Regions from separate parts of the Homo sapiens genome. Here region 1 is reported to be linked to region 2. The links are microRNA targets in miRTarBase. Many come from high-throughput screens and were not tested one by one. Region 2 holds a microRNA gene; the other region holds the end of a gene's coding sequence.
What was found. Region 2 holds the annotated microRNA hsa-miR-663a (AGGCGGGGCGCCGCGGGACCGC, at 6,870-6,891, shown strand). A microRNA usually pairs through its seed, bases 2 to 8, with sites in the 3' UTR of a target mRNA and lowers its output. Matches are read on the target gene's strand: a 7mer-m8 pairs with bases 2 to 8, a 7mer-A1 pairs with bases 2 to 7 and ends in A, and an 8mer does both.

Region 1: the mRNA of SIPA1 is a reported target of hsa-miR-663a. The part of its 3' UTR that is shown has no 7-base or 8-base seed match.

Annotation. Positions count from the first base shown.
Region 1 is chr11:65,644,707-65,658,564 of GRCh38, forward strand. SIPA1 (signal-induced proliferation-associated 1) reads left to right here. Exons shown (of 16, transcript NM_006747.4): 5 at 249-423; 6 at 1,148-1,251; 7 at 1,515-1,672; 8 at 1,750-2,359; 9 at 2,678-2,952; 10 at 4,556-4,774; 11 at 4,855-4,966; 12 at 5,051-5,159; 13 at 5,244-5,345; 14 at 5,432-5,486; 15 at 5,695-5,773; 16 at 5,863-6,206. The coding sequence ends at 6,009. It overlaps RELA (RELA proto-oncogene, NF-kB subunit), which reads right to left. Exons shown (of 11, transcript NM_021975.4): 8 at 13,581-13,793; 9 at 11,149-11,229; 10 at 10,982-11,056; 11 at 8,895-10,294. The coding sequence ends at 9,672. It overlaps MIR4489 (microRNA 4489), which reads left to right and starts at 4,486; the gene lies at 4,486-4,547. RefSeq lists a silencer at 7,795-8,034 and enhancers at 8,095-8,574, 8,585-8,634, 9,375-9,875.
Region 2 is chr20:26,198,378-26,215,133 of GRCh38, reverse strand. It overlaps MIR663A (microRNA 663a), which reads left to right and starts at 6,856; the gene lies at 6,856-6,948. It overlaps MIR663AHG (MIR663A host gene), which reads left to right and starts at 5,901. Exons shown (of 5, transcript NR_040095.1): 1 at 5,901-6,011; 2 at 15,611-15,685. RefSeq lists enhancers at 5,438-5,998, 6,882-7,383.

The sequences.
Region 1 (13,858 bases), not on the chromosome of region 2:
GAAGGGTCCTTTCTGTGAATCACCTTCTCTACTGCCACATGGGAACCAGCCTCCTCCCATCCCTTCCTACCTGTGCACTCCCAAGCACGAGGAGCACAACAGACTGTACTCACCTGACAGGCAAGGGCACAAGTGGCTCAGAGAGGGCTGGTGCTCAGCCCCAGGCCAGCGTCCCATCCATTCCCTAAGAGCTGGTGGGGTGGGGCTGCAGGGGACTGAGACCTATGCCTTCTGTCTCCCACCCACAGCTGAGCTTCCAACGCAAGGTGGGCATCCTGTACTGCCGGGCGGGCCAGGGCTCGGAGGAGGAGATGTACAACAACCAGGAGGCGGGACCGGCCTTCATGCAGTTTCTCACCTTGCTGGGCGATGTGGTGCGGCTCAAAGGCTTTGAGAGTTACCGGGCCCAGCTAGACACCAAAAGTGAGGCCCAGGGGCAGGAGGGGTGGGAGCAGATCTGTGCTGAAGGGGTGAGCACAAATTGCCTTGTCACTCCTTTGTCCGTACAATCCTGGGGCTGGGGACTGGAGAGTTCTTTGGGTGAGCTAAGGATCTGAGTCAGGGCTATGAGGGCCAAGCTATGGGCTGAAAAGAGGGGCTGGGACTGTCCCTCAAGGCCCAAGTACCCTACTGCCTGAGCTGGGGCTAAAGTGGTTTGGGGGCACTACCCCTCCACCAAACACATTCCAGCAGCTCAGCCTCGTGGAAGAGAGGTGCCCCTACCTCCCTGGTGGAAGGGGCCCCAGGACCCCTGGGAGGTGTTGTACTGAGCACCCCCTGCCTGCTTTTCACTTTCCCAGCATGCCACACATGCTTGGGCCTGGAGTGACACCTGTCCTCCTAGGACACCTGACCCTGCCCTCCCTCTGAGACCACTTCTCATTTCTGTCTTCATTCTATTTCAACTCTCCCATCCTGACCCCCCTTCACTCTGGCATGGGGCTGGAGCCTGTGGAGGGAGAGGAGGAGGGGCACCCAGGGCTGAGGCCCTTGAATCTCGCTGGCTGGGCATTGGCTGGTGGCATGACTGGTTGTCCACCTGCTGTTTGGGGCACAGAGGCTCCTGTGTACAGGCAGGAATGGCAAGTTCAAGCCACTTAGATTCCCCTTGTTTTCTCCTTCTGTGTCCCTAACTTCCTGGCCACAGCGGATTCCACAGGCACGCACTCCCTCTACACCACATACCAGGACCACGAGATCATGTTCCACGTGTCCACGATGCTGCCTTACACCCCTAATAACCAGCAGCAGGTGTGAGGGGGACCAACGTGGGGGTGGGGCTTCCGGGAACCATGGAGGGCCCTGCATGGCCCATGACGTTTGAGCTTTGGCCGGAGCTCTGTTGGCCCCAACAGCCCGCCCCTCTGGTGGCCCCTTCCCAAAGACAGAAACACCCTAGGTCTTCACCAGGGGCAGTGGGGGAGCCATTGGTGCCTTGGCTTTCTCCTGCCTGAATGAGGAGGGGTTTGGGGCACAGAAGACCTCATCACGAGCCCCTACTATCCAACCCCTAGCTCCTCCGGAAGCGCCACATTGGCAACGACATTGTGACCATCGTGTTCCAGGAGCCTGGCAGCAAGCCCTTCTGCCCCACCACCATCCGCTCGCACTTCCAGCACGTGTTCCTAGTGGTGCGGGCACACACACCCTGCACGCCACACACCACCTACAGGTGGGCACCGGAGTGGTCCCAGGTCTCCCGTGGGCATGGAGTCCTGCCGCCCCTCACTAACGCCTCCCTCCCCGCAGGGTGGCCGTGAGCCGCACCCAGGACACCCCTGCCTTCGGGCCAGCTCTGCCTGCTGGCGGAGGCCCCTTCGCAGCCAACGCCGACTTCCGGGCCTTCCTGCTGGCCAAAGCGCTGAATGGTGAGCAGGCGGCCGGCCACGCGCGCCAGTTCCACGCCATGGCCACGCGCACCCGCCAGCAGTACCTGCAAGACCTGGCCACCAACGAGGTGACCACTACGTCGCTGGACTCGGCTTCACGCTTCGGCCTGCCCTCCCTGGGTGGGAGGCGCCGGGCGGCCCCTCGGGGCCCAGGCGCCGAGCTGCAGGCAGCGGGCTCACTGGTGTGGGGAGTGCGCGCGGCGCCCGGGGCGCGGGTCGCCGCCGGGGCTCAGGCGAGCGGCCCCGAAGGCATCGAGGTGCCCTGCCTGCTGGGCATCTCGGCCGAGGCTCTGGTGCTGGTGGCGCCGCGCGACGGCCGCGTAGTGTTCAATTGCGCCTGTCGCGACGTGCTGGCCTGGACCTTCTCCGAGCAGCAGCTGGACCTGTACCACGGCCGCGGGGAGGCGATCACGCTGCGCTTCGACGGGTCCCCCGGCCAAGCCGTGGGCGAGGTGGTGGCGCGCCTGCAGGTGAGCTGGAGTGGTAAACTGGGGCCCCTGCGCGCGGCGGGGCGGAGCCTGCTTTGGACCCCTCCCTCCCGCCGCCTTTGTCCCCTACTCCTGCGGAAGGGAAAGTCGAGGAGGGCAGAGCCAGCCCCGGGGCTTGGCAAGGCCGGAACTGGTGCCCTCGGGTAAGCGACTTCTGGTCTTCATCCCTCGGGCGGTGGCACACGCGGCCCTCGGGGACTGTGGAAAGTTCCGTGTGGCCTGGGACGCAGTCCAGGGGGCGGGCGCTGGGGCGGCCCCACCTCCCGGCAGCCCCGCCCACTCGTCCCGCCCCGTCCGCAGCTGGTGAGCCGTGGCTGCGAGACCCGCGAGCTGGCGCTGCCCCGCGACGGTCAAGGCCGCCTGGGCTTCGAGGTGGACGCCGAGGGATTCGTCACGCACGTGGAGCGCTTCACATTCGCCGAGACGGCGGGGCTGCGGCCCGGGGCGCGCCTCCTGCGCGTGTGCGGCCAGACTCTGCCCAGCCTCCGGCCCGAGGCCGCTGCCCAGCTCCTGCGCTCGGCGCCCAAGGTCTGCGTCACCGTCCTGCCCCCCGACGAGAGCGGCCGGCCCCGCAGGTCAGGGTGCCGGGGACGCGGGGAGGTGGGAGGGCCGGCAGTTGGCCACCGCGCAGTCTGCGCCTCCCGGGTCGCCATCAGCAGTTTCAGGAACCCAGTGTGGATACCTTTCCTTCTGGAAAGAATCTCCCGTCTCTTAGCCCGTCTGAGCCTGTCTCTTCCTGTCTCTGTCTCTCTCTCTTTCTCTGTCCTTCCTTCCTCTCTCTCTCCTCTCTCTTTTTTTTTTTTTTGAGACGAAGTATCCCTCTTGTTGCCCGGGCTGGAGTGCAATGGCGTGATTTCGGCTTACTGCAACATCCGCCTCCCAGGTTCAAGCAGTTCTCCTGCCTCAGCCTCCCTTGTAGCTGGGATTACAGGCATGCACCACCACGGCCGGTTAATTTTTTCTATTTTTAGTAGAGATGGGGTTTCACCAAGTTGGCCAGGCTGGTCTCGAACTCCTGACCTCAGGTGATCCACCTGCCTCGCCCTCCCAAAGTTCTGGGATTACAGGCGTGAGTCACCGCGCCCTGAACCTCTATCTTCATATGTAGAATGGGACCAGTTAAGCGCGTTGCTCCCACTGCTTAAAAGATCAAATAGCAGCCCCCACTATCTTTTTTTTTAAGTATTGGCACCCGCCCACCCAACACACACACTACACACTATTGATAACTTCCTGTGCTAAGCCAGGGGTAGGCAAACATTTTCTGTAAATGGCCAAATAATAAATATTTTAGGCTTTCTGGACCATCTGGTCTCTGCCGCAGCTACTCTGTCGTAGGTAAATGAATAAATAAATGTGCCTGTGTCTCGCTAAAACTTTATAGACACTGAAATTTGGATTTTACATGATTTTAACTTATCATGAAATATTCTTTTGATTTTTCCACTAGTTAAAAATGTAAAATCCGGACCGGGCGCGGTGGCTCATGCTTGTAATCCCAGCACTTTGGGAGGCTGAGGCGGGTAGCTCACCTGAGGTCAGGAGTTCGAGACCAGCCTGGCCAACATGCTGAAACCCGTCTCTAGTAAAAATACAAAAATTAGCCAGGTGTGATGGCAGGCATCTGTAATCCCAGCTACTTGGGAGGCTGAGGCAGGAAAATCACTTGAACCCAGGAGGTGGAGGAGGTTGCCATGAGCTGTGATCGCGCCATTGCACTCCAGCCTGGGCAACAAGAGCAAAACTCCATCTCAAAAAAAAAAAAAAGTAAAATCCATGCTTAGCTCGCAGTACAGAAACTGGCACATCTGCTTTAGAAAAGAAAAGGAAAAGGCACAGGCTGGATTTGGCTACAGACAGTAGTTTTGGGATTTAAGCAATTTACACGTGTTATTTAAATCCTCACAGCACACTATGAGGTTCGTACTATTATCCCCATTTCACAGATGGAGAAATTGATGTTCAGAGTGATTTGCTTGGGATATACAGGGGCAGCACTGGAATTTGAACCATGGTCTGGAAAAATGGCCAGTAACCAGGCAGACATTTTTCACTGTTGTCAGGATGCCGGGGAGCTCTCCTGCTCCTGGAAGTGAGCCTGGCGGGCTGGGGGTGGGGCTAGTGATGCAGGACGCTGGGGACTGGAGAAGTCCTGCCTGACCCTGTCCCACCCCACAGGAGTTTTTCGGAGCTGTACACGCTGTCGCTGCAGGAGCCTAGCCGGCGGGGGGCCCCAGATCCTGTGCAGGATGAGGTCCAGGGGGTGACCCTGCTGCCCACCACAAAGCAGCTGCTGCACCTGTGCCTGCAAGATGGTGGCAGTCCTCCAGGGCCTGGGGATCTGGCCGAGGAGAGGACTGAGTTCCTGCACAGCCAGAACTCGCTGTCACCACGCAGGTGCACACTCTTGGCCTTCCCTCTCCTCCAGGCCTCTGGGAAAGCGGCTTCCCTTTCTGAGCCACCCCTGCTCTCCCCAGCTCTCTGTCGGATGAGGCCCCAGTCCTGCCCAACACCACCCCGGACCTCCTCCTGGCCACCACAGCCAAGCCATCAGTACCCAGTGCTGACAGTGAGACACCCCTGACCCAGGTGAGCAGAAACCAGGCTCTGGAGCCCAACAGCACAGTGGTGACAGTGGGCATCACTGAATCTGTATCCACTTCTGTGGCACAGGACAGGCCAGGCAGTCCCAGTGGCTCTGAGGACAAGGGCAACCCGGCGCCGGAGCTGAGGGCCTCCTTTCTGCCACGTACCTTGTCTCTGCGGAACTCCATCAGCAGGAGTGAGTCTGGACCCAGGAGAGCAGGGGAGGGGTTGGGGGGTGCTCCTGGGCTTCCCTAGCTCAGCCTGCTCCTTGTGCCCACAGTCATGTCGGAGGCGGGCAGTGGGACCCTGGAGGACGAGTGGCAGGCCATCTCGGAGATTGCCTCTACTTGCAACACCATTCTGGAGTCGCTGTCCCGAGAGGGTGAGGCCACCAGGGTGCTGCGGTAAGCCTGGGCAGTGCTCTTGCCCCCTTTCTGACCTGCCCACCTGATCCCTTTGTCCCCACAGGACAGCCCATCCCAGAGAGTGGAGACCCTAAGGGAACTCCAAAATCTGATGCTGAGTAAGCTCCCCAACTCCCCACAGCCGCTTTACCTGCCCACATGACCCCCCCTTCGTGCCTGTCTGCTGGGGTGGAGCTCTGTCCTGGGCTCTGCTGCCACATATGCCTAGAAGACCAGCGGGGCCCCTCTCATTAGCTGGGGCTGGGAGTCAGCTGGTGCACTGCCCCCTGCCTTGGTCCTGCTGAGTCTTGACCCCCATGTCTTCAGGCCAGAGCCTGGGAACCTCTCAGAGAAGGTCTCTCACTTGGAGTCCATGCTCAGGAAGCTGCAGGAGGACCTGCAGAAGGTGAGGGGTGGGCTGAGCTTGGGGGGAGTCACAGGGCTGCCCCAGGAAAGGGGCTGGCGGCTCTGACTCCTGTCTCCCCGGCACCCCAGGAGAAGGCGGACAGGGCGGCCCTGGAGGAGGAGGTGCGGAGCCTGAGACACAACAACCGGCGGCTGCAGGCGGAGTCTGAGAGTGCAGCCACACGCCTCCTCCTGGCCTCCAAGCAGCTGGGCTCACCCACCGCCGACCTGGCCTGAGCCGTCTGGAACCACCTGGGCCCCTGAGGGCACTGTGGTCACACTGGGCCCTCCTCAGGAACTCTCCCTGCGCAGAGGCGTGTCTTAGCACTGCCCCCCTCCCTAGCCCCTTATTTGGTGGCGGAAGTGGCCTCCACCCCTTCCCTGTTTGTAAATATTCTGTGGAGAAAAGAGGACTTCAGGGAGTAAAAAAGCCACTGATGTCTGTGTCTGAACATGTGTCCAAGACAGGGCAGGGCAAGGGGTTTTGCCTCCAGAGGCCCCAGCCAAACTCCTCGGACCAGTCAGGACAGGCCCTGGGAACACTGGCTCAGAGATGGGCTGGCACTCACTGAGGGGTCCCTGAGGCCAGGCCACTGCTTGGCTTCTCTCCCATAACGTTTATTTGGTTCTGCAGGGAAGCAGGTGGCCACACCCCACAGCTACCCTGGCCGTGCATCACAAGGCCCTGTGCCTCAGTGCAGGCCTCACTCTTCTCTCTGAAGCCACTGAGCCCCCAGGCCTTGTCCTCTCTCTACCCACCTGGCCACTTCTTGCAGGGCCCAATTCCAGAGGCGGTGGCATCTCCGCCTCAGTTGACTGGGGCTGTTTCTATGTCCTGGAGGAAACGGGCCCTTGACCCACTTCCCTCCTCACCAGCCTATGGTCCTCTCTGTTCCTCGCGAGGCCAGGCCTTTCCCCGAAGTGGCATCATCAAGTCCAAACTTGGGACTTTGTCTAAATCCTTTGGTTTCTGGACCTGAGGCCCAGATAGGGCAGACTTGCCCAGCATCTCATGCCTATTCCAGTCCCTTCCCTAGGCTGGCTGAAGCTCCATGGTGAGACCTAGGCCCTGGGTCTGTTAACTTAGGTGCTGGCAGGATGAGCTAGGCTCGGAGAAACAGAGCATCTGAGGATCAGGAAGGCTTCATGGAGGAGGTAATATGAGGGCTGAGTTTTGAAGGCTGGGTAGGAGTTCACCAGGCAGAGACGTCAGAGGTATCCTGGTAGGACCAGTCTGGCTGAGGCCTGCTGGACTAGAGCCAAGGCACACCCAGGAACCCAGCGTCAAAGAAGCCAGATCAGAAAGGGTTGTGAAGGTGCACTAGGGATCCTGGGTTAGCAGTTCCCAAGACTGCCACTTTTTCCTGGTTGTGGACTAGTGTGGAAGGCTGTGGTCACTGAGGGTGTGTCTGCAGAAAACTCGGATCTGGTCTTGTGGTTGATGTTTGAAGGGAGATTGATGGGGTGAGATCTGGATGTCAGAGCTCTTTGGCTGCAGGGAGGCGGCTGTAGCCGCAGTCCAGTGGGAGGTCTAGTGGTGACTTAAACTCAGTGATAGCAGTGACAGTGGGGAGAAGTGGGCAGATTTTCCAGGACCTCGTGGAAGGACTGGACGCAAGTTACTAAGGGAAGAGGCGGCATCTACGGTAGTGGCCAGGTTTCCGGCTGGAGCCCTTGGAAGGTGGCAGGGCCAGGGCTGACAGGGAAAAGGAGAGGCAGGCTGGGGATGGCTGAGGTCATTTGGAACAGGATGAGTTTGAGAGGCCCGAGGACGTCAGAGTGGAGATGTCCAGGGGCTGGTGCGCAGGGGAGAGAGATCTGGGTTGGATACGAGGACTTGGAGCTGCTGAGCCATGAGCATGATGGGGTCATTCACGAATGAGAGAAGAACCAGGAGAGGTCTTCGTGGGTCACGGGAGGTCGCGGGACCGAGAAAGCCAAGAGGAGGGAGGCGCAGCCTGGGCTGCAGGGCCTTGGCTCCCTGGTTTCCCTCTGGGCCTCGGGTCGCGGACCTCCGGTCGGGGTCCCTGCGCAGCTCAGCCGTCGGCTTCCTCAGCGTTAGGAGCCTTCTCACCCCGCCCGCTTCCTCCCCGACCCCGCCTCCCAGGCGCTCCCCGGCAGCTTCGCCCGGGTCCTGACCTGGCCACCGCGAGCCCGGGCTCCGCCCCTCGCGTGGGAGTTCCGCCGAGGCCCGCCCTCGCTCCAAGCCCCGCCCCTGGCCGCCCCCCCGGAGCCGGAGCCCCGTGGAAAACGCCACTTCCTCGACGGAATTGGCCTGCCGTCTCGCCGGCGCCGCCCGTCGGAGCCTGCACCCAGGGCCTTTTCTGTTCCTAGGAGACTCGCTGAATTTTGGGACGCGTCCCGCTGACGATAACTCCTTTTCCCCTGCTATTGTCCTCCCGCGACGGTGCGAAGCCCAAACGAAGACGCCATCGGCCTCGGCGGGGATTTTCCCCAGACGCTGGACCCGGCCTCCGGTTGCTGCGGGCTCCTTGTGCGCCTGCGCAGTCGAGAAGGGGGCCCACGCCGGCCAGCGCTTTTTGCTGCTGCGCTTGCGCTGGGGCAAAGCGGAAGTACGTCCAGCTGTAGCCCTTGTGGGCTGCGGCTGGGCCTTTGTTTTGGCTTCCTGAGGCTGTGGATTGAAGATTTCACCGTTCCTCCCAGAACAGAGTATCAAAGCATCGGTGGGCCGGGTAGATCTTTACCTGGCACCACACATTCCCCAAGAGAAGCACACACTCCCTGGGCCACCCAAGGAATTTGGCCCCATCACATCTTTCGAACATCGTTTCTCTTACCTCTGACGCTGGCTAGTCCCTCTTTGACATCCACTCTCAGCTGATCTAAGACCTGGAGCTAATGGGGCCTCTTGGAAGACTCCTGAAACTGCTCCATCCCCACAGCCAGCGGGCTCTACTAGGCTCTCAGTGTGCTAGGACTCTTGCCTTAGCTGCCCGTTTTCATCCACTGGACGGTAACTCGGGGTTTCCAAGGGCATTCTCAGACTGCAAGCTCTCAGAGGACAGTGCACGCATTCACCCAGCTCTCTACCACCAATGTCTGGCCTGATGTGACTAGCAAAATGTGTGCTCAGTGTTTGCTGAAAAAAAGCGGATCTCTAGCCAGCTTGGCAACAGATTTATTAGTTCAGAGTAGAAAGAGCAAGAGTCCAAGTGCTTTGATTGTTCAGTAAAAACTATGCCTCCTGACTGGAGAGCTGCCAGCCTGCTCTCCCCCACTCTTAACAACTTACCCTACTATTAAGGCACTTGAGAAGAGGGAGAGCAAGGAAGTCCCAGACCAAACCCCTTCTGGATCCTGGAGAGAGCCAGTGCTGTTGCACTGGTTTCCTTCAGCCATGGTTGAGCAAGGAAAGAGCCGGCAGAGACCTCTGTAGGGCAGGAAGGCCAGCCCCTCAAACGCTGGTGTTAGGCACAGGGACAATGCCAGTGCCATACAGGGGCTGGTATCTGGGGCGTTATTTTGATTAAGCTGTAATGAATCCATGATGGAAGACACTTGATAAGGCTTTGTGGGCTCAAAGGCCTTACCTCCAGCCTGCTTCTGTCTCTAGGAGAGTACCAGAAGCTGGAGGATGGGGATGGGGGACCCCAGAGTTCCCTACAGAGAAGGGAGCTGACCATCAGGACAGGGGAAAAGTTTGAGTTTCCCCAGCTCCCCCCTTTCCAGAGAAGTTAATGCTTCTGCTTAAGCACCTCCAAAAAGAGAGAGAGATACAGATACTGACAATAAAAGAATAAAATATGGCTCCCCCCTCCAAGGAAGACATCCACAAAGTTGGGGGCAGTTGGAACACACCCCACCAGAATCCGTAAGTGCTTTTGGAGGGCTTCAATCCCCTGCAACCCAGTGCTCTGGGGAGGGCAGGCGTCACCCCCTTAGGAGCTGATCTGACTCAGCAGGGCTGAGAAGTCCATGTCCGCAATGGAGGAGAAGTCTTCATCTCCTGAAAGGAGGCCATTGGGGAGCCCCGGGGCCCCCAGTGGAGCAGGAGCTGGGTCGGGGGGCCTCTGGGCCCCTGTCACTAGGCGAGTTATAGCCTCAGGGTACTCCATCAGCATGGGCTCAGTTGTGTGGGGGGCCACAGGTATGCCCTGGTTCAGCAGCTGCTGAAACTCGGAGTTGTCGACGGATGCCAGGTCTGTGAACACAGCTGGGTCTGTGCTGTTGCCAAGCAAGGCCCCCAGGTCTTCATCATCAAACTGCAGCTGCAGCAGGGCCTCTGACAGCGTTCCTTCCCCAGCCTGGGTGGGCTTGGGGGCAGGTGGGGCCACAGCCTGAGGAGGGCCTGGGGCTAGGACTGGGACAGGGGCTGGGGCCTGGGCCAGAGCTGATACCATGGCTGGAGCAGGGGCAGGGGCTGGAGCCTGGGGCAGGACTTGGGGAGGGGCCGGGGCCAAGGCCGAGGCCTGGCTGATCTGCCCAGAAGGAAACACCATGGTGGGAAACTCATCATAGTTGATGGTGCTCAGGGATGACGTAAAGGGATAGGGCTGGGGTGCTGGAGGAGAGAGACAGAGAGGCAGGGGTCAGAGAAAGCCCTAGAGATCCACCCCGTCCTCTGTACCCCAGCCCCTCTTCATGGTGCTCAGGCTCAATCCCTCTCTAGGGAGTCACTGCCAACACCCTATCTCCTTCCTCTTACCCCATCTGACCCAGCCTGTAGGGTCCAGTTCTAGCCACACCTCCACCTTGGAGTCCTCCCTGACTACTCAAGCCCACGAAACTCTTCCAGCCTTTTAGAGGAAGGGACACTTGGAGAGATAAGCTGGACTCCTCAGTTTACAGCTGAAAAACTAAGTCCTGAGAGGCAATGAGCCCATGGAGCACCAAGTGAGCAGCGGCCTGAAGTGCAGAGCTTGTCAGTTTTTGAGCCTCGCACAGGCACACACATCTTGCTAATTTAGAGGTGATTTTTGTTCCCCCAATTCAAGTGAGAGATGAGAGCAGAGATTCTGCATTTTTAACTTCTGATTCCCAAGATACCCAATATAGAATTTAAGTGGCACGGTGGTTCCCAGGCTTCAGTGTGCATTAGCATCCCAGGAAGTCGCTGGTTCCTGCGCCATCCTTTCAAAGCCTCTGATTCAGTAGGTCTGTAATGGGGCCCAGGAGTCTTCATCTCCACTGCTCCTCAGCTGAACAGAGCTGAACCTGTCGTTCCAGTGGGACAAAAGGAAATCCTTACCTGGCTTGGGGACAGAAGCTGAGCTGCGGGAAGGCACAGCAATGCGTCGAGGTGGAGGCCGGGGGTCGGTGGGTCCTGTAGGGCAAGGGCTAGGTCAGTTCTCAGCCCCAGGGTGTCCCCTCCCTGCCCGCTGCCTTCCTCTCTGGCTTTCCCAGTCCCCATCTCACCGCTGAAAGGACTCTTCTTCATGATGCTCTTGAAGGTCTCATATGTCCTTTTACGTTTCTCCTCAATCCGGTGACGATCGTCTGGGAAAGTAAGGGGGAGAAGTGGGACTTGCTCTCCTCAGGTGGGTCCCCGACGCTCTCAAAGGTCCCTCAGGAGGAAGGGGAGGAGCCAGGCTTTCCCAAGACCCATTCTCCCAACCTTCTCTGCCAATGAGAAGGGATGTGTGACACTCAGCAGTTCTGAGAATCCCACAGCTTTTGGAGGCCTCTGTTGGCTGAATCTGCCCCTCTAAGACCACATGGTGAGGCCGAGTACAGGGGCCATGCTCTGGGCAAAGAGGAGACCTGGGGGGCCCCAGCCTCCAGCTCACACCTTCCTGCACTGCTCACATCCTGGCTCATTGTCAGCCTCCACCCAGGCCTGGCGAGAATTTCTTGGCACTCTGGGGCAGCTGAGGCACAACTGCCTTAAGACTTCAGCAGAGACTCTTATTCTTATCTCTAATGGTTTCATATTTTAGTCAGAGCTTTCAGAACTGTCTTTCTAATTACAGTGGTATTTCAGTAGCTCCAAAGCACTTCAATTCCATCAATTCAAAGACAACCTCATCATCCCTCAAAAACTAGGTTCTTTCTCCTGCATTCCCTGACCATCCGCCATCTGCCCTGTCACCAAAGCTAGAAACCTTGGAATGATTATCTTCTTTTCTCTCACTCCCCGCCAGTAACTTGACATATATTTATCAAGCACCTACTATGTGCCAGCCTCCCTTCTAGACACTGGGGATGTGGCCGTGAGTATGCACACAAGGTGTCTGCTCCCAAAAAGTTGGCATCCTAGTGAAAAAGTGAGAGGGACACAATCATATATACAAACCAGAAAATCTCGGCCAGGCGTGGTGGCTCACGCCTGTAATCCCAGCACTTTGGGAGGTCGAGGCGGGTGGATCACGAGGTCAAGAGATCGAGACCACCCTGGCCAACATGGTGAAAACCCCGTCTCTACTAAAAATACAAAAAATTAGCCGGATGTGGTGGCGGGCGCCTGTAGTCCCAGCTACTCGGGAGGCTGAGGCAGGGAGAATCACTTGAACCCGGGAGGTGGAGGTTGCAGTGAGCCGAGATTGCACCACTGCACTCCAGCCTGGGCGACAAGAGTGAGACTCTGTCTCAAACAAACAAACAAAACCAAACCAGAAAATCTCAAGTGACGGTGGTCCAGGGACGATATGGTGATGTAACAATACTGGAAGTGAGGTCAGGACAGTCTAAATGTAGAGGGAAGGGCTAATTTAGAGGTCAGGGAAGGACTGGCATGAGCCACTTGCATTAAAACCTTGGGCATTCCAAGCAGAGGCAACAGCTAGACACAGGTCCTGAGGTGAGACTGAGCTTGGTCTGTAAGACGCAAAACGGCTGCAGGGCTGAAGGGTAACTGAGGACAGTGGTGGAGATGTGATCTTGCTCTGCTATTCCTTCTGTAAGGTTTGTGCCGCATCTTCTCTTCCTGGACTACAGCAACATTTCCAGAATGGCCTCCCTGCTTTGAGTCTGTCTGTCTCTGATCTTCTACACGTGGCCTCCTGAGTCAACTTCCAAATCTGCTCCTGTCACCTCTCTGCTTAGAGGCCTTCAGCTTAACCAGGCCCTCCAATCTCTGAGCCTGCTCACTGCCCAACATCAGCTCAAACCACGAAGGTGGCCCTGAATAGGCCGTGCAGTTGCCAACACCCCTTCCCTTCCAGGTGCTGGGCCACCTGCCTGGAGAACACACTTCTGTGTCTTTCTCCAGCTTCAATGCCACCTTCTCCATGCAGCTGTCTCCAGCTCCCCGGAGGCCACTGTGCCCCCGTGCTTCTCTGCGCACACCTCCATTTCACATGTCATTCCGTGACTTAAGGATCTGTTTTGCACATTTGTCTTCCTCAAGTGACTGAGACTCTGAAGGGCAGGGAGCATGTCTTACTCATTTTTTGTATTCACAATACCTGGCACAGGCCCTGGTACCAAGTGGACACTCAAACCTCGACCAAAATGTGGCTGGGCTGTATGGTAGTGACAAGACAACCAGTGTGGCAAAAGGATCCTGAAGCCAGATGGCCTGGGTTCCAACGCTGACTCTGCTAGACTCTGCTACTTACTAGCCACGTGAACCCAGGCAAGTTGGACACTATCTCCTACTTCAAAAGGGTCATGAGATTAAAATCAGGTAATCCAGTGAAGTGCCTGGAATAGGGGCAGATGTGTAGTACTAGCTCAATGTCTGAGGTATCATTATTATTAAATGAGGCAAGAAATGGATTCCAGTTTCTTGGATCCCAAGCTCTGACTCCAGCTTCTGGCCCTCAACCACAGCCCCAGACATGCAGTCTTGGCCTCTCTCTCACGGCACAGAGCCCAGCTGCCCTGATGCTGCCACCCCAGCTGTGTACCTGTATCTGGCAGGTACTGGAATTCCATGGGCTCACTGAGCTCCCGGTCGGAAGGCCGCCGCAGCTGCATGGAGACACGCACAGGAGCCTGCAGGCTGGGGTCTGCGTAGGGAGGGGTCCGGAACACAATGGCCACTTGTCGGTGCACATCAGCTTGCGAAAAGGAGCCTCGGGCCTCCCAGCCTGGTCCCGTGAAATACACCTCAATGTCCTCTGCAGGAGATGCGGTGGCAGTGTGGGTCAGTGTGTCTAACCCTCCATGGTCTCCCCCTCAACTT
Region 2 (16,756 bases):
CGGTATGTAGACTTTCAGACTGGCTTCTTTCACTCGGCAATATGCATTTAAAGGTTCCTGTGTGTCTTCTGTGGCTTGATAGAATAATATTCCATTGCCTGGATATACCACAGTTTATTTTTCCATTCACTTCCTGAAGGACATTTCGATTTTAGTGGTCATGAATAAGTCTCCTATAACATTCATGGGAAGAAGGTTTTTGTGTGCATGTAAGTTTTCAAATCCTTTAAGTAAATACCAGGGAATGTAATTGCTGGGTTGTGTGGTAATAGTATGTTTAAGTTTTGTAAGAAACTGCCAAACTGACTCCCAAAGTAGCTGTACCATTCTGCATTCTCACCAGCAATGAATAAAAGTTCCTGTTTCTCCTCACATTTGCCAGCATTTCATATTATCAGACTTTTGGATATTGGCCATTTTAATAGTCATGTAATAATATCTCACTGTTGTCGTGACTTGCAGTTCCCTAATGATATATGACTAGTAACTTTTCAATATCTGTATTTGACAGCTGTATTTAGACCTTTGGCCTATTTTTTAAATGAGTTGTTTTCTTTCTTATTTTCGAGTTCTTTGTATACTTTAAATACCACTAATTTATCTGGTATGTGTTTTGAAAAGATTTTCTCCCAACCTGTGGCTTTTCTTTTCATTCTAAGCACAGTTTGAATAACAAAAGTCTTTAATTTTAATGATGCTCAATTTCTCAATTTTTTCTTTAACCCAATAAATCAGAAAGCTGTTTATCATTTCACATGACTTAATATTCAGGCAAGGCCTATATAGGTCCCTTTCAAACAGTCATAAAGTTTAGAAGCTCTCACCTCACAAACAATAACAACAACAACATAGAAACAAAAATGACAGCTTTTGATGTTGTCTCCGTAATTTCTCAATTCAAGAACAGATTACTGAGCTTTACAAGCAATACATATAGATATCAATTTCCCAATAAAATACCTTATGATATTTATCAAATCACCTTAGCTTCGGTCTACTTATTGCTATTAGACTAAAATGTAATTTGTCAGACATGAGAAATCTTTTTGTAGTATTTTTTATAGAACCAAGTATTTATTTTAGCTTTTTCAGTTCTTCCCTTGCTGTTTCCCCAGTATGGTCATTCCAATTGTCTCTATAGATGTATTAATACCAGGTATATAATAAATACAATTATCACCCACGTGTACCCCAACCCCCTTCCCTGTTCATGCAGTCAGCATAAAGGAAGCAGGTCAAAAGGAAATCATGTACCCTCTGATATGCTAGGTTGTAAGGAAAGGTACAAAGTTAATTTACCATGTCTGAGTTTTCTTCTTCTCTTTATTTGTTCCTTTTAATGCATGTATGTTTTTATTTCTCAGGCCTCTCCAGTCCTACCACTCTCAAGGACACTTGATACAGGTATAAGGCTGTGTCTTCATCAGGTCCCTTTGTGTTACCCCCGGCCAGGGGTGGGAAATAGAAGAAGTGAATGTCTCTATCTTCACTATGTATCACACAGAGCAGAAATATAAAGAAGCCTGTGCGGTGAATGGGTCTCTTCTTTCTCCAAAAACCACCTACCCCTTCAACTCCCACTGCTTCAATGAAAATCTTGTATTAGTCTCCCCATTTCCCCCTCAAACTTGCTTTAACAAAGCAGTTCCTAAACCTCTGTTAATGCATGTCCCCACCCCTAACTCAAAACACAGTCTTATGTCACATCACAGAAAAGAAGTTCAAAACAAAACAAAATGAAACAAAGCCACAGTCTTACAAGAAAAATAGGTAAATTTTACAAAAGTTGTGTACTATATCTCTGCTTTGAATTTCATCATTGGCCAAGGATAGTAAAACTCTTGGAAAACTATAAAACAGGAACTTACTTAATATGTTTTACCCAAGATTTTTCAAACATTTTTGGAAGGATACTTATTAACATCTTGCAGAGGTAATGTTACATGAAAAACTTAGCATAAGACCAATCGGGTATTCTATGCAATAATGCAGATATATGAAAAATTAATATAATGAAATAAATGACTTTTCAAAAGGTATTGATCCTAGATCCACATTCTTTTTTTGGTTCAGGTGAGGCAATTAGAATGTCAAAAAATTAAAGAAGCATAGAACAACCGTCTAATAAGAGGGATGAATGCGCCTGGGTGGAAAGTTATTAGAAGATAAATTAGTAGATTGACCTTTTTGCCGTCTATGTAGTTTGTTTGTTTTTTGCTAGTACCAATAGAAAGAAATTCATTTCATGGTTTGTGTCACTGGAAATGTATAACTTAGTGGTAGCTATATAGCAAACTTTCAATATGTATGATAAGAGATTAGATGTAGGTTTAATATCATTATTTAATTTATTTGCTTGAATACCAGTGAGGAATTTCCACTTAAACTCTTGTTTTCAAGATGAGTGTTTAATTGAATTCCAGAATTCATTTTGAAATAGAACTTTGTGTAGGATATAAATTTCTTTGCAAGAAAAATCATTTGTACACTTGGGTTTGAGAGCAGTTTAATGTCGATATAACTTGTTTCCAGGCTTTCATTTCCTACTTTTTGGTATGGGAATAATCTCATGATGTGATTGTGAAAGTCTTAAAAGATACTGTCTGCAAAGATACTCTGTGCACTCAAAGTGTGCTCTATACACTTCACTGCCGTTCACCTTTTGGGTTTATGAGGCTTCCATTTGCTGGCAATTCGAATGTGACTCTGAGTTAGATGCTGTGGTATGGGAGATATGTTTATAGGAGTTTAAAGCACAGATAGACAACTAGATTGTCCTACCGACCCAGACTGTGCTTCTCACTCTCACTGTGCCCTTTCTTAACCTTTGGAAATGCTTATATATAAAATAGGCTATAACTTCATATAGTTGTATTATGAAAAGTTAATGCACAGAAAATGACTTGTGCTAGGTATGTGGTTTCTTCTCAATTAAATGGAAGCCATTGCCTGTATTTGTCAATAGAATTCATCATACTTTATCTCACATATTCAGTGACTTACATCACTGTTGGCACATGGTATGTTTAGACTGCACAAGGGTGAATTACGTCAAATTTATCTATCTACAGGAAAGAATATAGCCCAAGGTACCTTGTTTAGCTGAGCCAAAGTCTGCATTTATTAAAAATGTAAATTTTATCTTGAAATGATGCCTAATCTCACAGAACTATAGGTTCCAATCTCTAAGTCACTGTGATCAGTAGTACAACTATGTACTCTGTGTCCGTCCTACTAGCTATATTGCTGGGATCTGGAGCGTGACTTTTGTGTCTTTCTGTAATGCCTTACCTCTCATCAAAATTCACAAGACCTGCTCTCTGGATTGTGAGACTTATGCATTACAAATAAAAAGGTGCTGTCCTAATGGCATTCCAAAGCCATTTGAAATGAGTTGCTTTCGTTTCCAGGGAGTCATTTTTTATGTTGATTATCATTACTTTACCATTACCTTTTAATTTGGAAATGTTAAAATCCATTGCCATGTTCCTTGGAATATAAAGATCATATAGGGTCACTGAGATGAGTCTGGAAATATCAATCACTGGAGCCCTTCTAGTGGGATAATGTTGTTGCTAATATTGCTGGTATTCTATTCTTCACGTTTCCTCCAGTAAAATGTAAAGCGACCAAAATATAAGCGTCATGCAGGCAAGGGTTCTTTTATTTGTTCAATGAACACTGCCTTCACGTAGTAGTCAGTTAATATTCACTACTAGAATGCATGTTGAATGGCAGCTCCTTTATTTGCCATTAGCATTGGCCCACTTTATAGCAGTTGGACCAACAGTTGGACAAAGTGTGTTGATCTTTTATGACAAAATAGATATCTCTTTCTTTCTTTCATTGTTGCTTTTTCTGTGGGCAAGTTGATAGACATTGTAGTCCTGATGTTATTTAAGGGCATACAGTTGAAGTTATTAGATACTTTAGAGTTTATTTAATTATAATATGAAGCTTTGAGTTTCTGTTTCATTATTAAATAATTTATTTTATGATAGTGTTGCTTAACTTAGTGTGCAAGGCCTACAAATAAACCTAATAAATATCTTACAAACTACCTTAAAAGAAATCTAATGTTTTTCACTGAAGTATTTTTAAACATATTGAAGTTGGAATTCCAGGTAATTGTATACACACACACACACACACACAAAACACACACACACACACATACACACATTAGGTTTTCATTTGGTTTCTTTGTTCCTATTATTGAAATTACTATGCTAATAACCATATCAATTTATGAAACTCATTTTGAGAAAAATTGCCTAAAATATAACTCATTTTTAAAATTATTTTCTCTTAATTTATAATGTAATATTTTAATAAAATATGGTAGGGCAATTTTGTATAAATATTTATGCTAAGCTTTCTACATAAGTTACTGCATATAGTCTAGTTTTTAATAGAAGGTTTTTTTTTTACTTCAGTATCCACTTTAAAGTCATTGACATTTAGTGTTTTTTACTTTACAGTTCTAAGTTACTTATGCTTAAAAAGTCATCTGACTTTTAAGTTAATGTCCAACTTGATTGTTATCTCTCTATATCTTATTGATGTGTTCTTGAAAGTAGTTAGAATTTAAAAAACATTACTAAGAGGGTTTTTTATTTTTCATCTTTGGAAAGAAACTTGGGATAAATGGTTGTCTTTCATCTTTGTCCTCCTCTCTACTCACAACTCCCCGTTCCAGATCATTAGCTAAACTTGTGTGCTGAGGTTAATATTCTGTTTTACCTTTCTTGTCAAATTGCTAGATACAACTTTGTTCAGTTATATACTGTACAAACAGCATCTTAACTTTTTAATCTCTCTCTTTTTAACAAATGTGTTCACCCTCAGATTTGTTGTCATTTAGAAGAGGACTTCCTATTGGAAATATAATAATTTTTCTTCATGTGGAATCTTCAATACAAAAAAAAAAAACACGTATCAATGGTTTGCATGTGTCATGCTGATAGTTGGAGGGCAAATGATATTAGAAAAAGTAACACTATATTTCTGAACATAAACCTTGTTTCATCTTAGAATTTGGTGTTGAACCAATTTTGTACCTCATTGCTATAAACCTTATGTATCTAAAGAGTTGTTAATATGTGATTAACTGCCTTGGCCAAACTCAAAATCTTATTCACACATACAATACACACAGATAACTTATTTTTATTTGTTCGATCACTCCTTTAGTCCCTCATTTATTTCACAAACATTCATTGACACTTACGTGGCAGCACTCTTGTAAGAATAGAATATGGTGATGTCATGCTCTCCCTGGCCGTGTCCGAGCCGCGACGGGCGAGGGGCGGACATTCGTGGCGAATGGGACCCTTCTTCTCGTCCCGCCCGCGGGGGCCCCTTGTCTCTCCTCTTCCTCGCCTGCGGGTGGTGCGTTGGGAAGGCATGGGGTGCGGAACCCGGCCTGACCTCGCTGTCCCGCCCCCGCCTTCTGCCTCGCGGGGTGGGTCGGGGGGTCCTCTGACGCGGCAGGCACCCCTCGCTCTCGCCTCCTGTGGTTGTCGACTTGCGGGCGGCCCCCCTCCGCAGCGGTGGGGGTGCTGTCCCGCCGGCCCGTCGTGCTGCCCTCCCGGGGAGTTTGCGCGAGCGTTGGCTCCCCCTGGGCCTTTGCGGTGCTCCTGGAGCGCTCCGGGTTGTCCCTCAGGTTCCCGAGGCCGAGCGGTGGTGTGTCGTTCCCACCCCCAGCGCCCCCTCCTCCGGTCGGCGCCTCGGTGTCCGCGCGTGGGTCCTGAGGGAGCTCGTCGGTGTGGGGTTCGAGGCGGTTGAGTGAGACGAGACGCGCCCCTCCCACGCGGGGAAGGGCGCCCGCCTGGTCCGGCGAGCGCACGTCCGGTGCTCCCCTCTGGCGGGTGCGCACGGGCCCTGTGAGCGATCGCGGTGGGCTTGGGCTGGTGACGCGTGCGCCGGCCGGCCGCCGAGGGGCTACCGTTCTGCCTCCGACCGGTCGTGTGTGGGTTTACTCGGAGGTGCTTTGCCTCTGAAGAAAAGAGGCGGGTGGACGGGGTGGGGGGGGGGGTGGGAGGCGGGGGCTTGTGGAGTTGCGCTCACGCTCGCACCTGCCGGTCCCCGCCCTGACCGCGAACGCTCAAGGTTGCCGCACGCAGGTTTTTCCTGGTACCACAGGCCCCCTCCCTTCCCCAGGCCTCCCTGAGCGCCTCTGCGGGCCCCTCGGGCCCCACGAGGGGCGGCTGGCGGGTGGGGAGTGTGACCCATCCTCGGTGAGAAAGCCTTCTCTAGCGATCCAAGAGGTGTGCCTTGGGGTACGGGATCCCCCGGCCTGCCGCCTCTGTCTCTCTCTCCGTTATGGTAGCGCTGCAGTAGCGACTCGCTTGCAGAGGAACCCTCCTCAGCTTCCCCCTCGACGGGGTGACGGGGGGAGAGCGAGGGTTCCGCCGGCCACCGCGGTGGTGGCCGAGCGCGGCTCGTCGCCTACTGTGGCCGGCGCCTCCCCTTTCCGAGTAAGGGGAGGATCCCGCCGGCAGGGCCCAGCGTCCTAGCGGGTTGGGACGCGGCTGACAGCGAGCGATGGCTGCGCGCAGCGTTCCGTCCGGCGAGTGACCCCCCTCCGCCGCGAGTCAGCTCTCCGCCCGCTCCCTTGCCGAGTCGCGACCGGTGCGGACGACGGCGTTTGCGTGGCACGTGGTCGGGCCGCCTGGCCCTGGGAAAGCGTCCCACGGTGGGGGCGCGCCGGTCTCCCGGAGCGGGACCGGGTCGGAGGATGGACGAGAATCACGAGCGATGTGGCCCTGGCGTTGAGTTTGTGGCTGTGGTCGCTTCGGGGCCCCGGTGGCGGGACCAGGGGCTCGTGAGGCAGGTCTTGGTGGGTGCCGAGGGCCTTCCGGCGTCCCAGGCGGGGCGCCGCGGGACCGCCCTCGTGTCTGTGGCGGTGGGATCCCGCGGCCGTGTTTTCCTGGTGGCCCGGCCATGCCTGAGGTTTCTCCCTCAGCCGCCCCTCTGCGGGCTCCCAGGTGCCCTTGCCCTCGCGGTCCCCGGCCCTTGCCTGTCTGCGCCCCCTTCCCCGCCCGCCGCCCGCCGATCCTCTCTCCTCCCCGAGCGGCTCACCGGCTTTACGTCGGTTGGTGGCCGCGTCTGGGACCGAACCGGGCACCGCCTTGTGGAAAAAAAAGAATAGAATATACCCTGTTAAATCAGACATGATACTTGCTTTTGTGGAGCTTATGCTTTAGTGCAGAAACAGAAAGTCAAGCAAAAACTCAAACTATGTAACTTTAAATTGGATATGTGCTAATGAAGGAAAATGTGGCACTGTAAGAAAAAATAATAGGGAGTTAAAGGATAAATAGGAGTTTGCTGGATGAAATTTATGAAGAGCTGAAGATTTCAAACAAAAGAAACTGATGCAGGAGGGTGCAGCTTTGGAGTCAAGAATGAAGTTCTAGGAGATAGAGAGCAAAGAAATGGTGGGAGAGGAGGTCAAAGTAGGTAGGATTTTATATATTATCAATGGGAAAATATTGAACAATCCTAAGCAGAAAGGCAATGATATATGTTCATCTTCATTACAAATTCTTATATTTTTAGTAGACCTGTTTTCAGGCAAAACTTCATAAGAGAATAGTAACAAAGAGAAAAAAAGCAGTGGTCTCAAATTATCTCTAACTCACCTGATGACTTTAAGTTAAATGGCCTCAACATTTTGTGATGCTTTTCCTTCTTATAAAGTAAGGAGTTTAGATGAGGTGAGGTATCCAATTTCGTTTAGCTTCAATTTCCCGTAATTCGACTGCTGTCAAGTCATGCTTTGCTTTGTTCTGTTTGTGAGCCAGAGTAACTTTAAGGTAGTATATTAACTAGAATAACTATTTCTTTACTTTTAAACTTCAAAATTATGATGACATAAGAAGTGTTTCAAAGAACATTTAGAAAGTAGATAAATGAAAAATTTTTAACATTTTGGAATGCTTCTTTTATTTCTTTTTGAAACCTAGGTTTTTGGTGCTAGTGGTGATATTTATTTTTTGCCAAACTAACCATTCTATGTAATTTTGTAGCATTTTGGGTTGATGACCACCGTAAGTCTAGTATTCCCATATGTGTTAAAATTTATCTTTACAATTAATATATTTTCACTGAATTATTTAATTAAAAATTAAACTACAATTTCTAATACATGTTCAATGAGATATCATTAGGCATTACCTGAAAAGGATTTCTGGAGAAAGAAAGAATTTCTGGTTAAAAAAAGGTTGAACAGGTTTTCCTAGTGCAGTTCTCTCGGTCTCTAGGATGGAGCTACAGCATAAAGTAGCTTCCAAATTTACTTCACAAATTAGCCCTTAGATTTCAAGAATTACTTGTAATTTTTTTTTATAGAGCACAGTTTCTTTGCTCTTCAGTATTACACTTGCTTATGTGAGTTCCTAAAACTAAGTTTAATTTTGGAAATTCTTAATTTTATATTTACATTTTGAGTTGTGTTTAAATAAAAAATTAAGTTTAGTAAAAAGCTAGGTTTTTATTTCCACCTACAAATTCAGTGTCCCATCAATAGAAAAAAAATTCTCAATAATATTTTAAAGTTACTTACTTTAGTATTTGTCATTAAAGAATAAAATTTACCAGGCAGAAATGCCCCCAGAAGCTACCTATGGAGGAAATATAAATATTATTATTACCTACTAATATTAACATACAAACTAGTCAATTATGGTATAGCAGTTAAATATACATAAAAGTTAAATATTTATAAATGATACAGGACTCACATGTTTGTATGCCTGTTGTGCAGTCACAGTCTGATAAATTGATAAACAGAGTTTGCAGTAGAGAAAGAGTTTAATGATTGCAGGGCAGCTGAGTGAGGAGATGCGAGCACCCTCGAATCTGTCTTTCCAGAGAGTACTTGGCTGGGGTGAAGGGATTGTAGAGGACCAGGGGCTGGAAAATTGGGGTCACTGACTGGTTTGGTTAAGGGGGATTAAATCACCAGGATGTAGAAACTTTGCCCTTTAGTGAGTCGGCTTCTCCTGGAGCCCTTCGGAGCAGCTGATGTCAGTAGTTTCACTGGTATGTAGGATCTGAAAGAATACCTCAAAGAGAAAACTTAACATTTTACAATGCTCAAGTTGTTATCTATGAGTAGTTAAGTTTAACTATAATCTTGTGACAGGATATAAATGATTGTGGGGCCATACCTAGTGAACAATTATGAGGAAGCAGGACAGACAGCAAGTTAACTTAACGTTTAAGGCTGGATGTGCTGGAAGCTTATTTTTGTTTCATCTGCTCCCTCCTCTCCCAAATAATTTTATAAAGATTATAGGGGTTGTTTCATTATATATATATATATGTATATATATATATATATATATGTATATATATATATATGTAACTTCTAATATGTTATCAGTTAATAAAAGCTCAAATTTTCTAGACATTTTTGTTGATTAAGCTAATAAAGTGGCTTCTACCAATGGATCTTGAAATGTGGTATGCTAAATGAATTTCTGTTTTCAAAAATAATTGTGCATGATCAATAAATCACTAAAACATTGAGACAGTAGGCAAGTAAACTATATTTTTAAGTTTACTAGTGGTGCAATCTTGTGCAAGTCACGTGACACTTTATGCCTTAATTTCTAAAAGAAAAAAGAGAACTTCCTAAATTAGAGCTGGGTTCAAATATGAATTAGATATATAAATATGAAGATATTGGAAATATTAGAAATATGAATTTGAAGGTAACTGCCATAGTGTTAGTGACTAACATATAGTTAACTATCATTGACAAAATTATTATTATTTTCTTGTTTTTTATTGGGGGGGTTTCTTTTTTTTATTGTACTTTAAGTTTTAGGGTACATGTACACAACGTGCACGTTTGTTACAAATGTATACATGTGCCATGTTGGTGTGCTGCACCCATTAACTCATCATTTAGCATTAGGTATATCTCCTAATGCTATCCCTCCCCCCTCCACCCACCCCACAATAGTCCCCAGTGTGTGATGTTCCCGTTCCTGTGTCCATGTGTTCTCATTGTTCAATTCCCACCTATGAGTGAGAACATGCAGTGCTTGGTTTTTTTGTGCTTGCGATAGCTTGCTGAGAATGATGGTTTCCAGCTTCATCCATGTCCCTACAAAGGACATGAATTCATCATTTTGTATGGCTGCATAGTATTCCATGGTGTATATGTGCCACATTTTCTTAATCCAGTCTATCATTGGTGGACATTTGGGTTGGTTCCAAATCTTTGCTATTGTGAATAGTGCCACAATAAACATATGTGTGCATGTGTCTTTATAGCAGCATGATTTATAATCCTTTGGGTATATACCCAGTAATGGGATGGCTGGGTTAAATGGTATTTCCAGTTCTAGATCCCTGAGGAATCGCCACACTGACTTCCACAATGGTTGAAGTAGTTTACAGTCCCACCAACAGTGTAAAAGTGTTCCTATTTCTCCACATCCTCTCCAGCACCTGTTGTTTCCTGACTTTTTAATGATTGCCATTCTAACTGGTGTGAGATGGTATCTCATTGTGGTTTTGATTTGCATTTCTCTGATGGCCAGTGATGATGAGCATTTTTTCACGTGCTTTTTGGTTGCATAAATGTCTTCTTTTGAGAAGTGTCTGTTCATATCCTTCACCCACTTTTTGATGGGTTTTTTTTTCTTGTAAATTTGTTTGAGTTCATTGTAGATTCTGGATATTAGCCCTTTGTCAGATGAGTAGGTTGCAAAAATTTTCTCCCATTCTGTAGGTTGCCTGTTCACTCTGATGGTAGTTTCTTTTGCTGTGCAGAAGCTCTTTAGTTTAATTAGATCCCATTTGCCAATTTTGGCTTTTGTTGCCATTGCTTTTGGTGTTTTAGACATGAAGTCCTTGCCCATGCCTATGTCCTGAATGGTATTGCCTAGGTTTTCTTCTAGGGTTTTTATGGTTTTAGGTCTAACATGTAAGTCTTTAATCCATCTTGAATTAATTTTTGTATAAGGTGTAAGGAAGGGATCCAGTTTCAGCTTTCTACATATGGCTAGCCAGTTTTCCCAGCACCATTTATTAAATAGGGAATCCTTTCCCCATTTCTTCTTTTTGTCAGCAAATAAACTAGAAAATCTAGAAGAAATGGATAAATTCCTCGACACATACACTCTCCCAAGACTAAACCAGGAAGAAGTTGAATCTCTGAATAGACCAATAACAGGCTCTGAAATTGAGGCAATAATTAATAGCTTACCAACCAAAAAAAGTCCAGGACCAGATGGATTCACAGCCGAATTCTACCAGAGGTACAAGGAGGAGCTGGTACCATTCCTTCTGAAACTATTCCAATCAATAGAAAAAGAGGGAATCCTCCCTAACTCATTTTATGAGGCCAGCATCATCCTGATACCAAAGCGTGGCAGAGACACAACAAAAAAAAAGAGAATTTTAGACCAATATCCTTGATGAACATTGATGCAAAAATCCCCAACAAAATACTGGCAAACCGAATCCAGCAACACATCAAAAACTTATCCTCCATGATCAAGTGGGCTTCATCCCTGGGATGCAAGGCTGGTTCAACATACGAAAATCAATAAACGTAATCCAGTATATAAACAGAACCAATGACAAAAACCACATGATTATCTCAATAGATGCAGAAAAGGCCATTGACAAACTTCAACAATGCTTCATGCTAAAAACTCTCAATAAATTAGGTATTGATGGGACGTATCTCAAAATAATAAGAGCTATCTATGACAAACTCATAGCCAATATCATACTGAATGGACAAAAACTGGAAGCATTCCCTTTGAAAACTGGCACAAGACAAGGATGCCCTCTCTCACCACTCCTATTCAACATAGTGTTGGAAATTCTGGCCAGGGCAATCAGACAGGAAAAGGGAATAAAGGGCATTCAATTAGGAAAAGAGGAAGTCAAATTGTCCCTGTTTGCAGATGACATGATTGTATATCTAGAAAACCCCATCATCTCAGCCCTAAATCTCCTTAAGCTGATAAGGAACTTCAGCAAAGTCTCAGGATACAAAATCAATGTGCAAAAATCACAAGCACTCTTATATACCAATAACAGACAAACAGAGTGCCAAATCATGAGTGAACTCCCATTCACAATTGCTTCAAAGAGAATAAAATACCTAGGAATCCAACTTACAAGGGATGTGAAGAACCTCTTCAAGGAGAACTACAAACCACTGCTCAATGAAATAAAAGAGGATACAAGCAAATTAAAGAACATTCCATGCTCATGGGTAGGAAGAATCAATATGGTGAAAATGGCCATACTGCCCAAGGTAATTTATAGATTCAATGCCATCCCCATCAAGCTACCAATGACTCTCTTCACAGAATTGGAAAAAACTACTTTAAAGTTCATATGGAACCAAAAAAGAGCCCACATTGCCAAGTCAATCCTAAGCCAAATGAACAAAGCTGGAGGCATCATGCTACCTGACTTCAAACTATACTACAAGGCTACAGTAACCAAAACAGCATGGTACTGGTACCACAACAGAGATATAGACCAATGGAACAGAACAGAGCCCTCAAAAATAATGCTGCATATCTACAACTATCTGATATTTGACAAACCTGACAAAAAGAAGGAACGGGGAAAGGATTCTCTTTTCTTTTTTGAAATAATGGAGATATAGTAGAGAAGATTTTGTTAATTTGAGGTGTTTTAACTGTTTATTCAGTAAGTTCTTTGTAAAAATTTACAGGAAGAACTGAAGGGATACAAAAGGTTCATAATAAACACAGCAGATGATTTCTGATCCTTAAATCCAGAAACTGGGCCCTAATCTATTTTGCTCTCTTATTTCTAGCAAACTACCTAGAAAAAGTTGGAGAATGGCACTATTTTTTTGTTGATCTGAGCTTCAGTTTTTCATTAGTAGTAGTAATTCAAGCTAGAACATATTGTATATTCAAAATTACACCAAGTGATTTACTTTAATATAAGTTATTTCATTTAACCTTAGGAATACTTCATGGATATATTTATTTTTACAGATTAAGAGATTGTTATTAGCAGAGGTTGAGTAACTTGCCCAACTCTGATACATTGCTAAGGAGTAATTGACCTCTAATTGAGTCACGTTTCTTCTAACTACTATGCTCCACTGTAAATAAATGAGATTACAGGTTAAAGTTTGATAATTACTTCTAAGTAATAAATAGCACACTCAATTTTAATATCGATTCTGGTAAAATTCTTTATAAAGGGTTTAGCATTCTTTACAATGTTTGGGGTTGGGTCAGGGAGAAGATAATGAAAAGAGAACAGAGCAGATAAGAAACATTTTGCACATCTTGACTTCCAAACTGATCCTCTAAATAGATTTTTATGCTATCTCATCACACTGAAACTTTTTGATGGATATAGAAACAAAAAATATTGTATTAAAAATATTGAGAAAGATTGGGGAGAAAGATAGAAAATTGTTTTCAAGAGAATCAAAGTATATTATTTAAGGTATATTTCTCTGTGAATCTTGAAACTAGGGAAAGAAATATGTCAGCAAAAATACTGGAAGTAATTTATTCTTTCATTGACACAAAAACAATGATTGAATGATTAATATGTAGCAATCACTAATCTAGGATGCTCTTGCTCTGACTTATATTCCCTTCCCAAATATTCCAATGATTTTGTATTAATAAAAGAAGACATTAAAGTAGTATATTGATATTCTTATATATTGATATATACAAGAATATACATTCTAAGTATGTATGTTTTGAAATTTTGTGGTGATCTGATGAGTGACTTTGAGTCTCAAATTTAGAGTTTCTAATAATTCTGGATTAAACAAAATGTGAAGGGAGTTAATCTTGAAAGCAAAAGAAAAATAACTCATCCATACAAGGAAATGACTTTATGATTAACACCTGACTTTTCATCAGAAACAATGGTAGTCAGAACACAATGGGATAGCACATCCAAAGTGCTGAAAGAAAAAATAAGTGTTTTGTTCTGTTTATCTTACCAAAGTGGTAATGTGTGTAGGATTTATATGTAAAGGGAAAAAACTTTAAGAGGAATTAGACATAGTCAATGGAAAGAATATGACCAATAATGTGTTCTAGGTCTGGCTTGGTTAGATATAACATGTTTAACTTTGGATAATTCATGAATCCTTTGCAAATCTTTCTTTGCCTCCGATATATCTCGGCTGGAGTCAACACTAAAAACTTGAACTCCATATATTGTGTATATCTGTTATTTCAAGTTAGTATATTTTATGTTTCCTTCTTGATGGAAGCTTGTCTTATTTTGTTCTCTACAGTCTGTATTTTTTTCTTTTCATAATTCTGTAGCAATCGTGTTCCAAATATAAAAATAATTCTTTTGTGCTGTGTGAAAATATGTGTTCTTTTATTTAAGCTTCCAGACGAATGTGTTATTTCAAGTGGGAGACTATGATTTTTCTCTAAAGATGATGGGTAGGGTTTTGTTGTTGTTGTTGCCGTTTGTTTGTTTGTCTAACTTTACTAGTAGGTAGATTATTTGAATGACTGATCTCATTAACCATCTCTCCTGCTAAGTCTGTCTCCTTTTCCTTCTAAATCTATCTCCTTTCCTTCAAGTCTTTCATCTGAGTGACATTAGAAATTCTCAATACAACTGGTATTGTGCCCAGCTAAATCCATCTGATTTTTACTTTTAAAAATGGCAAGTTGATGTAACATTTCATTATACTATATACAAGAGAAAAATCAGAGCAAAATGTAATTGACAGTTTTCTGAGTTTCTTTAGTCTTAAGTTTTGAAATTGTTTTTATCTATTTTTATTTATTTATTTATTTTTTACAGACAGGGTCTCACTCTGTCACCCAGGGTGGAGTGCAGTGGTGCAATTATGGCTCACTGTAGTCTTGATCTCCTGGGCTCAAGCAGTCCTCCCAACTCAGCTCCCAAGTAGCTAGAACTACAGGTGTGTGCTTTATAATAAAACACATTATTATAAAAACACCCAGCTTTATTTTTTATTAAAGAAAAAAATTTGTAGACATTGGCTTTCATTATGTTGCTCTGGCTGGTCTTGAACTTCCAGCCTCAAGTGATCCTCCCACCTTTGCCTCCCAAAGTGCTGGGATTAAAAGTGTGAACCACCTCATGTAACTTTTTTTTTTTAATTATCATTATAATACTTGATAAAATAAAATAAACAAACTAAAACAAACATCTGAAAATGATGCTAACGTAGTTGGGTGCTGGCTTTAAAAAGTCCATTATGTCTTTTGTCAATTATATTAGTTTTCTAAGGTGGCACTTAAACACATGCACACACACACAGACTGGGTGGCTTAAACAACCGATATTTATTTTCCCACAGTTCTAGAGGCTGTAAATCCAAGGTCAAAGTGCTCCTCTGAGGACCATGATGGAAGGATCTGTTCTAGGCCTCTCTTCTTGGCTTATAGATGGTTGCCTTCTCACAGCTCTATCTTCACACAGTTGTACTTCTGTGCATACATGTAGCTGATTTTTACCCCTTTCTAAATTTTATTTTATATGGACACCATTTTTTTGGATTAGGACCCACCCCGAGGGCCTCATTTTAAATGAATTCTTATTTAAAACATCCCAATATGGTTACTTTCAGAAATACTAGGCTTTAGAATTTCACCATATGAATTTTGGGAGAGAGGAGCACAGTTCAGCCCATAACTAACACACGGTAAGTAACTATTGACCAGGTTACTCATGTTACTCAAAAGAGATAATTCACTTTGTTAATATGAAGCAATTTTTTTCCTCAGTAGGTGTAAGAGTGTGTGTCAAACAGAAGTAGCATTTTAACATATAAGAGACATAGCTGAGCTCTAAATATAGGAGACAGTATGATAATGTTTTACATTTCAAATTCTCTGCCTGCATTAGAATATTTTTGCAGAATGTGTAAAACAATCTAATGAATTGATTGGGATGTGCAGGAACAAGAAATATGGTTGTGATTTTTGCATAAAGCTTTTATATAGTTCCTTTAAAAATATAATTATCTCATTTACCTATTTCCTTAAGGCAATGGGTATATTTTGTTTTATTATTTTTGATCCCGATTTTTCTGACTATGGTTCACAAAAAACCATAAGATAAAGTACCATCCTGTACCTTATCTTCATGCAACAGTTTTTTTTTCTGCTAAATTAATATTTTGTATATTTTTATTTTGTATATATTTGGTATAATTCTGTTAATATTTTATATATTTCATATATTTGTATATGAAATGCGGATGCTTTAGACAACATGAAAATATCTTTGAACATTCATATTTTACCAAGGAAGAAAGATAAGCAAAGCACATGATTAATAGATTTTAGAATTAACTGGTAAGTTACACCAGTTTCAATTTCCCAGAAGTCTAATATATATCCCTGCATTCTTATCGTGAAATATACAGTAACAAGGAAAGAAATTAATATATTAAAGTATCTTAATCTATCCAATTAAATGGTATTTGAAAAAGACTTTAATGCTCTGTCTTTTGACATTGAAATAAAGTGATTTTATCTTGAAATTCCGTAAGATAATGAAGAGTTGGTAATTACATCTTTACATTTTATTGCTCTTTAAATTGCAGAATCTTCATTATTTCTGCGAGAGGTCACAAGCATGTTCATCTTAACTTGACTATTATACAAATAAGGCTTTATTAATGCATCTATAGAAGTAGCCAAATCATTCATTCCATGACTAGGCAATTAAGTAATCCTGTTAAGATAAAGAAGTAATGACTAAAATTGGT